Linked DNA regions of Homo sapiens. The protein of the gene in region 1 purifies or fractionates together with the protein of each later gene. This does not show direct contact. Each region holds a gene or a part of one and is shown in the gene's direction. Other genes may lie near its edges.

Region 1 (5,218 bases):
ACCTACATTTTGTGTCTTAATCTTATTTTAACATGAGAATGATCTGAGAAAAAGCTTTTAGGTATGTGAGGTGTGAAGAGTCCCTAATTCCAGATATTACAAATTTGATTGTAGAACTCAAGCAGCACTACATATTATCCTAATAGGCCAGGTGAATTATCTAACAATTTTGCTTTTTGCTTTGAAACCTTTGCAAATAGTTTTTTGAAAACTTTTCCTTGGAATTCTAATGTACCAAATTTGTACTGTTCCTGCCCTGTGTATGTTTATTTGTGTTTTATTACCCTCTCATTTTTTCATTTCTTCCTAGCTGGTAACTGAATCATCTGCCTGCACCTATCATGATTTTATTTTCAGTGAGAAAAAAATTTGGGAGGGGTAAAAACTGAAATAAGTTCAGATTTTCTTTCTATCAACTCTTGTTCTTTCACAAGCACAGGCTGATTTTTAAGGGCATTTGCATCTGACAGTTATCTACTAGTAGAGTGATGGTATAAAATTATATTAAGCTACTATTTTAAATAGTCATATTTCTACTAAATGTGAAAAACTAGCAGGAACTTTTCTGATTTTTTTTTAATTAAGATAATACCAGAAAAAAGAAAAAAATTATATTTAGTTTGATGTTTTATTAAAGTTAAATCGCATTATAAACAATTTCTATCTCTGCTACACCTAAATTTTTATGGAAAACAGTTTCAATATTAATCTTGCTAGTAAGTTTATATTGAATGTAGGGAAGACAATCTTATTTGGGCCAATCATTTCTATCTTAATGAATTCATTATAAAAATTATAATATTAACAATTACTATTTTTTTACTCTTTTCCTAAATCTTTTTTATTTCCTTAGCCCAAGTATATTCACAACTTGCTAAAAGCAGTTGAGATCAGAAAAAAGGAACAGGAAAAAAGAATGGAAAAGAAAATACAGAGAGAACGAGAAATGGAAAAGGGGGAGTTTGATGATAAAGAAGCATTTGTGACATCTGCATATAAGAAAAAACTGCAAGAGAGAGCTGAAGAAGAAGAAAGAGAAAAGAGGGCTGCTGCACTGGAAGGTAAAATGAAAGAGTGGGAAAGGCACAAGGAAACAGTAGCAGAATCTCTCCCCTGTGGTTAGCTGTTTGCTCTGTCACTGAACTTTAGGGTTATGAGTTTGTGATCATAATTTATATATAGGAATTCAAGACACAAGGAATATGGTATTATATAGCAGTATAAAACAGAAAGGAAAGTTTAACTAAAAACACAGTTGAACTCTTCAGTAACTATTATTTCTACTAGACTTTTCTCTTAGTTCTCATTTTGTGGCTTTTGCCTTAGAACATGATCTGAAATGTAAAAACATTTATTACAAAGTATAACGCCATGGCATTTGTCAGAAACAATATAAATATAATTTTAAACCCTAGTTACATTTTTTTGGGATGAGAAAATAATAGAGTAACACCACTCAAGGAGGATCAATGAGGCAATTAGAAAAAGAATAACATTAATTGAAGAAAGAATAAAAATTGGATGAATTAAGAATATCTTAATGCTTTACCTTAGTGCTTTCTACTCATGATTATTTCTCAAGATCTAAGTAGAATATGTATTTATAAAATACTTTTTTTTTTGAGACTGGGTCTCTGTCACCCAGGCTGGAGTGCAGTGGCTCAACCATGGCTCACTGCAGCCCTGACCTCCCAGGCTCCAGTGATCCTCCCACCTCAGCCTCTTGAGTAGCTGGGACTACGGGAACATACCACCACGTCTGGTTACTTTTTGTATTTTTTGTAGAGACGGGGTCTCACTATGTTGCCGGGGCTGGTCTCGAACTCCTGGGCTCAAGCAATCTTCCTGCCTCAGCCTCCCAAAGTGTTGGCATTACAGGTGTGAGCCACCATGACCAGCCCTGTAAATACTTTAATTGACAAATGCTCATCAGCTTTTTGGACAGAGTCTCGCTGTGTCGCCCAGGCTGGAGTGCAGTCGTATGATCTTGGCTCACTGCAACCTCTGCCTCCCAAGTTCAAGTGATTCTTATGCCTCAGGCTCCCAAGTAGCTGGGATTACAGGCATGCACCACCACACCTGGATAATTTTTATATTTTTATAGAGACGGAGTTTTACCATGTTGGCCAGGTTGGTCTCGAACTCCTGAGCTCAGGTGATCCACCCACCTCAGCCTCCCAAAGTTGTAGGATTACAGGCGTGAGCCACTGCGCCCATCCTCTTCAGCTTTTAAGTAGAAGAAAACCAAGTCTATAACATTCTGTCTAAGCATGTACTATGTGTTTAGAGTGCCAGTCGGCAAACTTTCTGTAAAGGACCAGATAGTATTTTAGTATTCATATTTTAAGACTTTAAATTTATAAATTCATATTTTGAATGCCAGATCATATTCATACTTTAGGGCTTTTTGTGTATATGATCTCTGTCGCAGTTACTGAGCTCTGCCTTTGTAGTACAAAAGCAGTTGTGGACAATACATAAATGAACAGGGCTTTGTTTCAATAAAAATTTATTTATGAAAACAGGCAACAGGCCAGATTTGGCCTGCAGTTTGCCAACTCCTGATCCAGCGAGTAGTTTACACACTGTATGTTATATACTGTATGTCTGTAAAATGAAACTGCACTGTGCCTTATTGAATATATTCTAATTTTTGCTTTCCCTCTGTTAGCATGTTTGGATGTAACCAAGCAGAAAGATCTCAGTGGATTTTATAGGCACCTATTAAATCAAGCAGTTGGTGAAGAGGAAGTACCTAAATGCAGCTTTCGTGAAGCCAGGTGAGGAGACGTGTATGAAATATTTTGAAGAAAAATACTGTTAATAATCTGTGGTTGTGGGGTCATTTTAACCCTCTGAAAGATGGAAGATTACAACATTGCATATTGTGTTGTCAGCCAGCCTTACCTAACTGAATGAATGGCTAGAAATTTGCAGTTTCTTGATTTTAAAACCTACAGATTTAGTTTAAGATCATTTTTATTCTGCATTTCACAGAAATTGTTACATTAAAACAGTGATTGAGTTTAATATTATTGTAAAACCAAAGACAGACTTTTAATGTATAAAGTTTCTGAATTTTTAAGTGATTTATGGGTCTTAACAAGGGAGAGCAAAATCTTCAAGGGAAAGCAAAATCAAATTGTAGTTTTTTCTTTTTTCTTTTTTTTTTTTTTTTTTGAGGCAGAGTCTCACTCTGTCGCCTAGGGTGGATGGAGTACAGTGGTTCAATCATAGCTCACTGCAGCCTTTGCCTCATGGGCTCAAATGATCCTCCCAAGTAGCTGGGACTACAGGTGCAAGCCATCATGCCCAGCGAATTTTCTTTTTGTGTTTTTTGTTGTTGTTGTTGTGTGTGTGGTTTTTTTTTTTTGTTTTTTTTTTTTTTAGATGGAATGGAGTCTTGCTCTGTCACCCAGGCTGGAGTGCAATGGCGCGATCTCTGCTTACTGCAACCTCTGCCTCTCAAGTTCAAGGGATTCTCGTGCCTCAGCTTCCTGAGTAGCTGGGACTATAGGTGCATGCACTACGCCCGGCTAATCTTTGTATTTTTAGTAGAGATGGAGTTTCACCATGTTGGCCAGACTAGTCTCGAATTCCTGACCTCAGGTGATCCACCCGCCTCGGCCTCCCAAAGTACTGGGATTATATGCATGAGCCACCACGCCCAGCCTCTTTTTGTATTTTTGTTGTGGAGATGGGGCTTTATGTTGCCCAGGCTGGTCTTGAACTCCTGGGTTTGAGGGATCCCCCCTCTATCTCAGCCTCCCAAAGTGCTGGGATTACAGGTATGAGCCACTGCACCTGGCTGCTTTTTTTTTTTTTTTTTTTTTTTTAAATAAGAATGTGGGTATTCCTCATGATCCTTAAAATGATTGGTGCCTGGTACCTTAAAATGATTTTGCTGTCAGAATTAAGGAGAAAGTTGGAAAGAATTAGGTGTCTACAATATAAGTCTTATATACATGTTCAGATAGTGTATAAAAAGGAAAGTGGTTTGTTTTCATAAATAGAACCCAGCCTTCCTAAAATGTAAGACTTACATATCGGGGCTAGAACTGCACTGTTAGTATGTAGGCACTAGTCACGTGTAGCTACTTAAATTAATTTAAAGTAAATAAAGTAGGTTGGGCGCAGTGACTCACGCCTGTTATCCCAGCACTTTGGGAGGCTGAGGCAGGTGGATCATGAGATCAGGAGATGGAGACCATCCTGGCCAACATGGTGAAACCCTGTCTCTACTAAAAATACAAAAATTAGCTCGGCATTGTGGCACATGCCTGTAATCCCACCTCCTGGGGAGGTTGAGGCAGGAGAATTGCTTAAACTCGGGAGGCGGAGATTGCAGTGAGCTGAGATAGCGCCACTGCACTCCAACCTGGCGACAGAGCCAGACTCCATCTCAAAAAATAAAATGGCTGGGCACGGTGGCTCATGCCTATAATCCCAGCACTTTGGGAGGCCAAGGCGGGCGGATTGCGAGGTCAGGAGATTGAGACCATCCTGGCCAGCACGGTGAAATCCCGTCTCTACTAAAAATACAAAAAATTAGCCAGGCGTGGTGGCGGGCGCCTGTTGTCCCAGCTACTTGGGAGGCTGAGGCAGGAGAATGGCGTGAACACAGGAGGCGGAGGTTGCAGTGAGCTGAGATTGCGCCACTGCACTCCAGCTTGGGTGACAGTGCAAGACTCTGTCTCAAAAAATAATAATAATAAATAAATAATAAAATTAAGTAAATAAAATTTAAAGTTTTGATCACAGCGGCCACATTTCATATACTCAGTTGCCATATTTGGCTGGTGGTTGCCATACTGGGGACAGCTCACATATGAACATTACCATTTCTTGAGGCATTTCTATTAATGCTGGTCTAGAAGGTAAAGGATTAGAGGATTTTTGAATAAAGTTATAAGGTATTATAGGAATGGTGAGATGATTATGCCATAATTATGTAGCTGAAGGTAAAAGAGTCTGTCCTAAGCAAAAAAAAAAAAATTTTTTTTAACAGGAATGTTCTGGGTAGATCTGAGTCTGTGTTGCTAAGGAAGGGAAGAGGTAGGAGAATAGAATTAAGGTGAGGAGAGGAAGTTTATGCCCCACTCCCTCCCTACGCTGCTAGGCTTTGATTATAAAATTGGTGAGAAGTATGAACCTAAGAAAATGTATTTGAAGATTCAGGTTTTGAATGGAAATTATATTACGTTATATCTTTGTATTA
Region 2 (3,021 bases), on another chromosome or scaffold:
AAAGGTAATTTTATTGAATCTTCATTGGTGCTAATGATGGACAGTTAAAAAGATAGCTAGTGTATATTGTTATGGGTCAGTACTTATTAGTACTTCCAAAATTGAATTTGAAATGCTATGTATTCACTTTTCACTCTGTAAATGTAATTCTTTACAATGACTTTATTTATTAAAGGGCAGCCAGTTGTCATTTTTACAGGATTGTGTGAGCTATTCAAACTCTTCAACCCCTGAACAGGGTATTAAGCTTCCAAAATAATGATGGGGATAAATATGGAAATCCTTTTTAAGTTGTATTTCCATTAAACAAAAACCCTTATAATTCATACTATCATGAATTTGCTTTATCCATCTCATTTGCATAACAGTTCATCTGTCTGGTCCCATTAGGCTCTACCAAAGAAAGACTCTGATGAGTGGACATTATTACTGTGACTCTTGTAAGTAGCCATAAATAAACCAAAATAGTATCAAATTTAGGTATGAAATTCCACATGTGCAAAGTACTGTTAAGGTGATAACATTTTTGATGAGATTTAAAAAAATATTTGAAATATTAAAAAGCATTATCTTTAAACATCCTATAAAAGAGTGAGTCATTTTTAAGTTGTGTTTTCCCTAGATCACTGATTTGTTACCTTTACACAGAAGCACATTGCAAAGAAAGGCTTTATTTCTACCTCTTCCATTCAGTTTTCCAATATTGAGCTGTGTCCCTCTGAATATTTGCCTTAGCTATTTCAAAATAGGTATTTTCAGAACCAAAGCAAAGGGTGGTTTGTTCACTGAAACATTCTTAGAGGCCTACTTAACGGGCGGCAGTATCCGGTAGTGGTAAAACCTCACAGTTTCCTAATTGCAGGTATGTAAATACCAAAAAAGTCCTGTTGTCAGCCCTAGGTTTATCTTTGAAAGCAGTTAAATGTGCACCTTGGTCTTCCTCCGTGTGTTCAGATTCCTTCTGGTTAAAGTTCTTATTCAGAGTCATCTAAAAGAAATTTCTAACATGATGTATGGTTTCTTGAATGTCATGAGTGGCTGCGTATATTGCTTTGTAGCAACAGATTGTATTAATAATTAATAGAATACCTAATTTTTTTGGCCTATCCTCTTTGAACTAGAAATGACTACTTGAGGGCTATTTCAGAGAACCAATATGAAATGTTTTTGTTAGTACAAAATACCATTGCCTTAAAAGGTTTCAAGCACATTTTCTTTTCTATTTGAGAACTTAAATTGCTGACTTGTATTCGTTAAGCAACCTTAGAAATAAACCACTGCTTATATCTGCATGAATATTATGCATTTCATGAGTACAGTTAGTTGATTAGATATTTCAGGGTTTTGCATTTTCTATAGACATGGGGACTTTTTTAACATGGTAACGTCTTAGGAAAACCATTCTCTCAAGGTATTACACCATTTCCAATTTTATCCAAATGAAAAGCATATCTGCTTAAATTTAGGATGTCTTTGCTGAGAATATTTGGAGGCTCTTGTTAGGAAGAATCATGGATTCAGTATTTCTAACCTGATTACTGCCTCAGAGGCTGTCTTGAAGGGAGACAGTAGGATTCACTGACTACCTTTACCCAGATGAGGGATCAACAAATCTCACACTTAAACTAAATGAGTTGACAGGACAATAGGTGCTAATCTCATGTGCCCTAAGATGGACTTATTTAGATAGGGATTTTTGCATTGGAAAAGCAGCACATTCTCTGACCTTGGGTACCAAGCTATGATACTAATTTGAGAATCACATTCTGATACGTTAATATCAGAAATCAGTGAGCAACCTAATTGCTGTAAGCTGACATACATGGAAGCCGAAATCAAAAGGTTGCTTTTGTTAGTTTCCCTGGAGCATCTATTTTTGTAATACATTTTGCCAGTGGGACTGAAAAGCTCAAAATGTTTTAGACCTAATATCATACATTAATTTTCTGCTCTGCAGTGTCAATTTGGGCACAGCCAGTTTTTACCTCTGTGGCACCTTCTTTATAATTTACTGTTACCTATTCTGCCTGACAGATTGATTAAGTAGGTTGATAAGATCCATCGAAGATTGAATGGCTAGGAGTAATTCTGTTCTCGTATAGGCAACTTAACTTCACTGTGGAATCCATTTATCTCAAAGTTTGAGGGCTGTCTACTTTATTTTCAAGTTTGGGGCGGAAACTCAAAATCCCGAGCATTGCCACTTTAGTAGTTTGTTTGATTTGCCTATTGTTTAATAATGAGTACATTCTTATTAAGTGATGAGTACATTCTTAATTTTAAGGTATGTTTTTTTCAAGCAGCTTCATTTTATTAGGAAAAATACATACTCATTTGTTGTAAACAGTGATTGTGGGGTTTCATTTTCTGAATGTACTCAAAACTCCCAACAACAATTGAACAGGATGTTTGCTAATAGAAAATCTAAAACAGGAATATGTGTATATGGCATGAATTAGTCATTGACTTTAAGCTTCTTATCCATACAAGGAACTAATAAAATGTTTATTGACAACATAAATCCAAGGCTCTAACATGTCTTAAGTTAATGTGAATCAGAAGTAACTTTGAGGTGGGGCGCAGTGGCTCATGCCTGTAATCCCAGCACTTTGGGAGGCCAAGGCAGGCGGATAACCTGAGGTCAGGAGTTCAACACAACCCTGGTCAACATGGTGAAACCCTGTCTCTACTAAAAATACAAAAATTAGCCGGGTGTGGTGGTGCATGCCTGTAATCCCAGCTACTCGGGAGGCTGAGGCAAGAGAATCGCTTGAACCCAGGAGGCAGAGGTTGCAGAGAGCCCGAGATCGCACCACTGCACTCCAGCCTGGGCGACAGAGCAAGATTCCTTAACAACAACAAAAACAGAAGTAACTTTCAGTCCCTGGAAAATGTGAGATCTCTAGTATAATTGACCCTTTATCCAAGTAATTTCATGTATCATTCAGGAGTGCAGGCTCTGGGATCAAATGGTCCATGCTCTAGTCTCAGCCCTACCATTTAATAACAGAATGGCATTGG
Region 3 (3,500 bases), on another chromosome or scaffold:
CAGTTGACTTCAACCACAAGAGGGAGATGTAGGTATATCAAGAGAAAAGCTAAAGGCAATGCAATTGGTATTATTTTATTCTTTGGAGAAAAAATAAGAAACACAGTTTTTGTTTTGGTTACCAGAAATTTAGAGCAACTTAAAACCGTCAAATAGGGAGTGTTTTCAAAATTAATTATTTGCATAGTAAGGGGGAAAGTATGGTATAAGACATAAGAGATTTTAAAAATTTATAGGTTAAGTATACACTCTACAAAACGGGTATCTCCCTGGAGATGTTGCAAAGGAGATGAATTTTTTACGTATCAAATTACATGTTCTTGACCTGCTATTTAACACAACTTTGTGGATGGGTTGTTCTTTTGTTTTGTAACGTGATATGGTTTGGCTCTGTGTCCCCACCCAAATCTCATCTTATAGCTCCCATAATTCCCACATGTTGTGGGTGGGACCCGGTGGGAGATGATTGAATTATGAGGTTGGGTCTTTCCCGTGCTGTTCTTGTGATAGTGAATGGGTTTCACGAGATCTGATAGTTTTAGAAACAGGAGTTGCCTTGCACATAATGTAATTACCATCTAATATAACTGCCCTGTATGTTTAAAGTTAGTCCCTTTGAAAGGGAACTCAATTCTAGTTATGATTTTACACACTTCATGTGGCACTCAGAGCATTACTATATAATATTTTGGTGTTTAGTCTCTTACAGGCTCGTTTTGTTTTATCTGTACATTAAGTTCATAGCTATTTTGTGTTACATTACAATAGTCTCAGGATCTTTATATTAAGAAATATTTAAGACAAATAGACTGAATTTTAGACACTTATAACCATAGATTAATGAGGAAAGGATGGCTATGTTGCAGGGCAAAAGAGTGAGGGTCGTGATCAACTCAGTATACCACTGGAGGCTATATGAGTAAACAGCAAACTGTTCGCATAAACGCAGAAAATTGGCAAACTGACAAACTGTGTCTGCCACCCAGAAGGAATGCTGAGGGCAGTCAGGCCTCAGGTGCAGGTGTTTCTTGTGATTAGACACATCTGAAGCCTGTTAGCAGTAATGTGAACCTGTGATCAATTAAGCAGCTGACCAATTGTTACCTCGTCCTCCCTGCTCTTTCTACCCAATAAATATGAAGGGCTGTAGAAGCTGAAGGCAGCTCCCTTTGCTCACTAGAAGCAGGGAGCTCTCTTCTTCTTCTCCTGACCCCTTCCTTTAAAATAGTTACTTTTGTTTTAAGTTTTCATTTCTGCATTCGTCCTCCTTCGTTCAGTCTCGTAGTAACCGTGGCAAACTGCAGCATGGCTATTTGAGTAAATGGTATTGAAGGATTCAACCATTTTGGAAAAAAATCAATTTGTGTCCTTTTAATTATATAACAAAAGAAATTTCAGATGGATTAGAACTAAATAGAAATGAAGCAATATTGGTGAGTCTGATCTCTGATTTGGAAAAGACTTTGTAAGCATAAAAATAATGAACCAAGTTACAAAGTAAAAGTTTGATAGATTTGATGACATACAGGTTCAAATGTCTGAAACAACAAATAAAAAAAAAAATCAAAGTAGGAAAATATTTGCAGCAAGTTGCCCAAAAACTTACAACATATATATAAGATCAAGTATTAATTTATTAATAAAAATATACCAGTTGCAAGATGGACAAAAGTTATAAAGTCAAAAGAGAAAATTTAAATGATCTTTTTTTGTTAGATACCATTAAAATTATTATTATTCTTATTTATATTTTTATGTATTTTTTTGAAACAGAGTCTCACTCTGTCACCGAGGCTGGAGGCACAATCACGGCTCACTGTAGTGTCGACCTCCCAGCTTCAAGCAATCTTCCCATTTTAGCCTCCCAAGTAGCTAGGACTACAGGTGCGCTCTAACATGCCTGGCTATTTTTGTAATTTTAGTAGAGATGAGGTTTTGCCATGCTGCCCAGGCTGGTCTTGAACTACTGGGCTCCAGTGATCTGCCCACCTCTGTCTCCCAAAGTGTTGGGATTACAGGCATGAGCCACTGCACTAGTCCAAAATTATTTTTAAATGGTGATTTTCTTCTGGGAAGTATGTAGAATTGGTCAGTCTTTTTGATTGAACTTTTCTGGATGAGGTTAAATCTTGCTGGAAAGCCTTTTAGCAGTACTATGTATTAACAGTAAATACATTTTTAGGAATGTGACCTAAAGAAACAATCAGAAATGCAATTGAAGCTTTTGTAAAAAATGTTCTTTGGAAGATTATAATGGCAAAAATAAGTGACCGAAATATCAGTAAAGGGAAAGGATCAAATACAGTGTAGACACAATAAAATGTTTTTATAACTGTTAAACATTTAGTTTAGAAAAAAATTTTTATGTCCTGGGTAAAAACCAGGATATAGAACTGAGCGTATAGGAATGTATATGGGATATCAGCTTTGTAAAATACATATGTATATCAGTACTTACCATAAGACAGGGCAAAAAGAAAAATAAAAAAAATACATATGTGCATAGAAAAACTTATATGGTTAGCAGGATGTACACCAAAATATTATGTCAGTTATCTCTGAGTAATGGTACTCTGGAAGATTTTTATTTTCTTCTTTATACTTTTTTGAAGTTACTGGATTTCTTATCAATGAGCATGTCTACTTTTATAGTTAGAGGAGGGAACACCTTATAAATGAAGCTGCTTATTTTTTAAGTAAGAGAAGCTATTATTGTTTACTTGAAATGATATAAAATATTCCTCTTCTTAAACTTTCTTATAGCCATTTAAATGGATGTTCCCTGGAAATGCTAAGCAGGCCTTCCCTACTTATCACAGATTCATTCAATGCTACATATGTACAGCCTAGAAGAAAACAGAGAGATGAGCAGCTTCTGAGTACGTATTCTTTCACGTCCTTATTATTATTATTATTTTGTAACTTTTTGTATATTTAGGGAATATAAGTACATAAAAGTACAGGTTTCTTTTTTTTTTTGAGACGGACTTTCGCTCTTTCACCCAGGCTGGAGTGAAGTGGCGCGATCTCGGCTCACTGTAACTTCCGCCTCCTGGGTTCAAGTGATTCTTGTGCCTCAGCCTCCCGAGTAGCTGGGATTACAGGTGTGCACCACCACGCCCAGCTAATTTTTGTATTTTTAGTGGAGACAGGGTTTCTCCATGTTGGCCAGGCTGGTCTTGAATTTCTGACCTCAGGTGATCCACCTGCCTTGGCCTCCCAAAGTGCTGGGATTACAGGCATGAGCCACCACGCCCGGCCACAAGTATAGGTTTCTTAATGCATACGTTGCACAGTGGTGAAGTTTGGCCTTTTACTGTATCCGTCTCCAGAATCGTGAATGTTGTACCCAATGTATAATGTCCTTTTCAAGGAGCTGTGGAAATGCATGGTAGTGGGAATGACTGTATTCTGTTTAGCACTTTTCTTGGTCATAAGAGATTGGTTAACTTTAGTATTTTTGAAAAAAATATTATGTGACCATCAGTTTTTGTATAAGA
Region 4 (3,092 bases), on another chromosome or scaffold:
GGTTCAGACCTTTGTGCCTTTGCTAACAGACCTCCCTGAGCTTAGTCATTTCCTGTGCTGCCTCACCCCCAACCCCCTAAAAAATGTATCATCTTCAAGCCTCAGCTGAAATACACATTCTGTATGAGCCTTTTGAAAACTCCCAGATTGAAGTAATGATTTCCTTATTTTTGTCCCATTATTATAGCATATGTCCCTGTCTTTGTCAGAGCACTTAATAATACTTCAGGGTATTAACTTATTCACATGTCTGTCACTTACCACTTCAAGGTAGGGAAAGTACAGTGCAAACAGCTCATGCTTATCTTATTGTAAATTTTCATTGCTAACTTGGAGTTGACTTTTTTTTTCTTTTTTGAGACTGAGTCTCGCTCTGTCACCTGTCACCCAGGGTGAAGTGCAATGGCACGATCTTGGCTCACAGCAACCTCTGCCTCCCAGGTTCAAGCAATTCTCATGCCTCAGCCTCCCGAGTAGCTGGGATTACAATTGTGTGCCACCACGCCTGGATAATTTTTGTATTTTTAGTAGAGATGGGTTTTGCAGTGTTGCCCAGGCTGGTCTCGAATTCCTGAGCTCAAGTGATCCACCTACCTTGGGCTTCCAAAGTGCTGGGATTACAGGTGTGAGCCACCGCGCCCAGCCCAGAGTTGGCATCAACTTTTTCATTTAAGTTTTTTGGTTACCTTTTAAAAAGATGTACAGCATAGAGGAAACCACAGCAAAGTTTTAAATGAATAGATGATGATGATACAGTCATGCGTCACATAACCACAGCATACACTCACACACATCTAGGGTAAGTAGTATGGCCTTTTGCTTCTAGGCCTGAACTGTAAGTTGGTGGACTGAATACTGTAGGCACTTTTGCAAGTGGTAAGTGTATGTATGTATCTAAACATAGAAAAGGGAGAGCAAAAATACGGTATTCCAATCTTAAGGGACCACTGTCATATATGCAGTCTGTCATTGCCCAAAATGTGCACTGTGTGTATATATTTTGTATGTATATGCATGTTTTTAATATTTTTGATAGACCCCAAAACAATCTGATTTAAGTTGTATATGCTTAGTAACTTATTTAGAGATACGCATTTTAAAAATTATTTTTAGGAGAAAGTTACTGTTATGAGCACCATTAATCCAACTAAGGACCTGTTGGCTGACTTGATTGGGTGCCAGAGACTTCCTGAAGACCAACGTAAGAAAGTACACCAGCTAAAGGACTTGTTGGACCAGATTCTGATGTTGGACCCAGCTAAACGAATTAGCATCAACCAGGCCCTACAGCACGCCTTCATCCAGGAAAAAATTTAAACAAGATGAAGAAACTCCAAGGGTTTGAGTAAATACAAAGACTGAAGAAATTTCACAGCAGTTTATTAATGTATATAAACTTATAAATATTTCTCCAGCAAATTTGAGGAAGCATGATATATTTGAATTAACACCAAGGGTGATATTTCTTTTAGAGATGTTAGTTAATCTGTTTTGTGTCTTACGTGAAATTTCACTGTAGACTGTTTTAAATTGCCAAGACTGCACAAAATTACAGTGCTAATGTATATGGTTGCAGTTCACATAAAGACAAAAGCATCTGTTATGAAATGAGTAGTAATATTGGGTGGTTGATTTGTTCTTAGCAGACTTGGCTTCATTTTGGTCTTGAGATAAAATGGCCAGCATAAATGCTGTTTATATTCACGTTTTCCTAGGTGTGTGTGTGCAGGCCACAGCAGCATGCCCTTGGTGTAGTCAGTGCCGAAAGGGGTCTGTTCCTTCTTGAGCCTGCCTGCAGGGATGGTCTCCTTTTAAAGCAGGTTGTGTGCAGCATTCAGTACACTGAAGGTAAGCTAAACCATCAACATCTCTGGTGTTTTAAGATGTTATTTTATTGGAACAACTGACAAATGAGGGATGTTAGCTTTGTGGCAGAATTCCCTGCATGTGTGATAACTGATCTTGTTTTATTTTTTGGCATTGCAACTGTGGCATAGTTACAATTTCTGTTTGTTCATCACATTTAAAATTGGAAGAGAACGCGCTTGATGGATAGAGCGCCTTCAGTGTACTGTTTCTTATTAACTTTACTTTTTTTAAATCAACTTGCTATAGACTTTATATACATTTTGTTAAATATAGTTCCTAGTGACATAGAAACGATGCGTAGTTTTCATTTACTAATTACAAATGTTGAGGCCTAATTCTGAAAGTCCTCATATTTAAAGGCTAGACAACGTAATGAAATTTTTAACTATTTGTATGTCATTTTGAAAGTGTACTGCTTTATGGTAAAAGTGTTTTTCATTTGTTCATTGTTTTCATTATTTGTGATCATGTTGTCTTTCAATACAGGCATAAACCTTCCACTCTTGAACAAAGCAGCTGCTTTTTAAAAGCGGTAATTGCTTCTTTACCTTTTATTTCTTTTGTAAATGAAGCTTTTCTTTAAGAATGTGACTTTAAAGTGTTGTCTATTGCATAAAACAGTTGACACTCACTTATTGTAAAGTGAAGATTGTTCTACTGCATGTGAAGTGGACCATGCAGATTTCTGTATGTTCTCAGTATGCATCACTAGATAATAAAGTCTTTTGTGAACAAGGCATTTGTAGCCATTTTTAAAAGTTTTTGTCTTCAGTGCTGGTAAGTCAGGTAAACCATAAATAGTTAAAAGCAACCTTTTGTTTTTTTCCTGAAAGTTTTTAATTGAAAGTATTATTAGTTAAAGATGTAAACCTAGCCAAAATTACCAGTTTATTAATAATTAGGATCCTAATTATTTCAAAAAATCCTACAAATATTGTCAGCTTTCAGTGTAGTGAGATTATTCCTGTAGGTTATGGGGTATAATTCAGGATTTAACTAATGTTTCTGCTATTTTCTCACTTTTCCTTTTGATGGTGCGGAAAGAGAAAAAGGAAAACGGGGCACAGGCCATTCGACGCCTTCTCCAAGGGGTCTGATTTGCTGAGACACCAGCTTCACCTTCTTAACAAGGTTATTTCTGACAGCATGTGTAGATAAACATTTAGCAACAATTTAAGACAAAATCGTTTAAATCAGCTTGGTTTTGCAACACAAAGGAATTT

The links. The genes of interacting proteins can lie anywhere in the genome.
Region 2: the proteins of NSRP1 (region 1) and CCNT2 purify together in Homo sapiens (affinity purification with mass spectrometry, with the first as the bait; one large-scale study listed by BioGRID). This does not show direct contact.
Region 3: the proteins of NSRP1 (region 1) and CPSF2 purify together in Homo sapiens (affinity purification with mass spectrometry, with the first as the bait; one large-scale study listed by BioGRID). This does not show direct contact.
Region 4: the proteins of NSRP1 (region 1) and PRP4K purify together in Homo sapiens (affinity purification with mass spectrometry, with the first as the bait; one large-scale study listed by BioGRID). This does not show direct contact.

What each region holds. Positions count from the first base shown.
Region 1 is NC_000017.11:30,178,237-30,183,454, forward strand, and holds part of NSRP1 (nuclear speckle splicing regulatory protein 1), read left to right. Parts: intron 1-853; coding exon 854-1,061; intron 1,062-2,671; coding exon 2,672-2,780; intron 2,781-5,218. UniProt on the Homo sapiens protein: RNA-binding protein that mediates pre-mRNA alternative splicing regulation.
Region 2 is NC_000002.12:134,956,822-134,959,842, forward strand, and holds the end of CCNT2 (cyclin-T2), read left to right. Parts: 3' UTR 1-2,521; downstream 2,522-3,021. UniProt on the Homo sapiens protein: Regulatory subunit of the cyclin-dependent kinase pair (CDK9/cyclin T) complex, also called positive transcription elongation factor B (P-TEFB), which is proposed to facilitate the transition from abortive to production elongation by phosphorylating the CTD (carboxy-terminal domain) of the large subunit of RNA polymerase II (RNAP II).
Region 3 is NC_000014.9:92,135,469-92,138,968, forward strand, and holds part of CPSF2 (cleavage and polyadenylation specificity factor subunit 2), read left to right. Parts: coding exon 1-28; intron 29-2,763; coding exon 2,764-2,879; intron 2,880-3,500. UniProt on the Homo sapiens protein: Component of the cleavage and polyadenylation specificity factor (CPSF) complex that play a key role in pre-mRNA 3'-end formation, recognizing the AAUAAA signal sequence and interacting with poly(A) polymerase and other factors to bring about cleavage and poly(A) addition.
Region 4 is NC_000006.12:4,059,300-4,062,391, forward strand, and holds part of PRP4K (serine/threonine-protein kinase PRP4 homolog), read left to right. Parts: intron 1-1,113; coding exon 1,114-1,317; 3' UTR 1,318-3,092. UniProt on the Homo sapiens protein: Serine/threonine kinase involved in spliceosomal assembly as well as mitosis and signaling regulation. Connects chromatin mediated regulation of transcription and pre-mRNA splicing.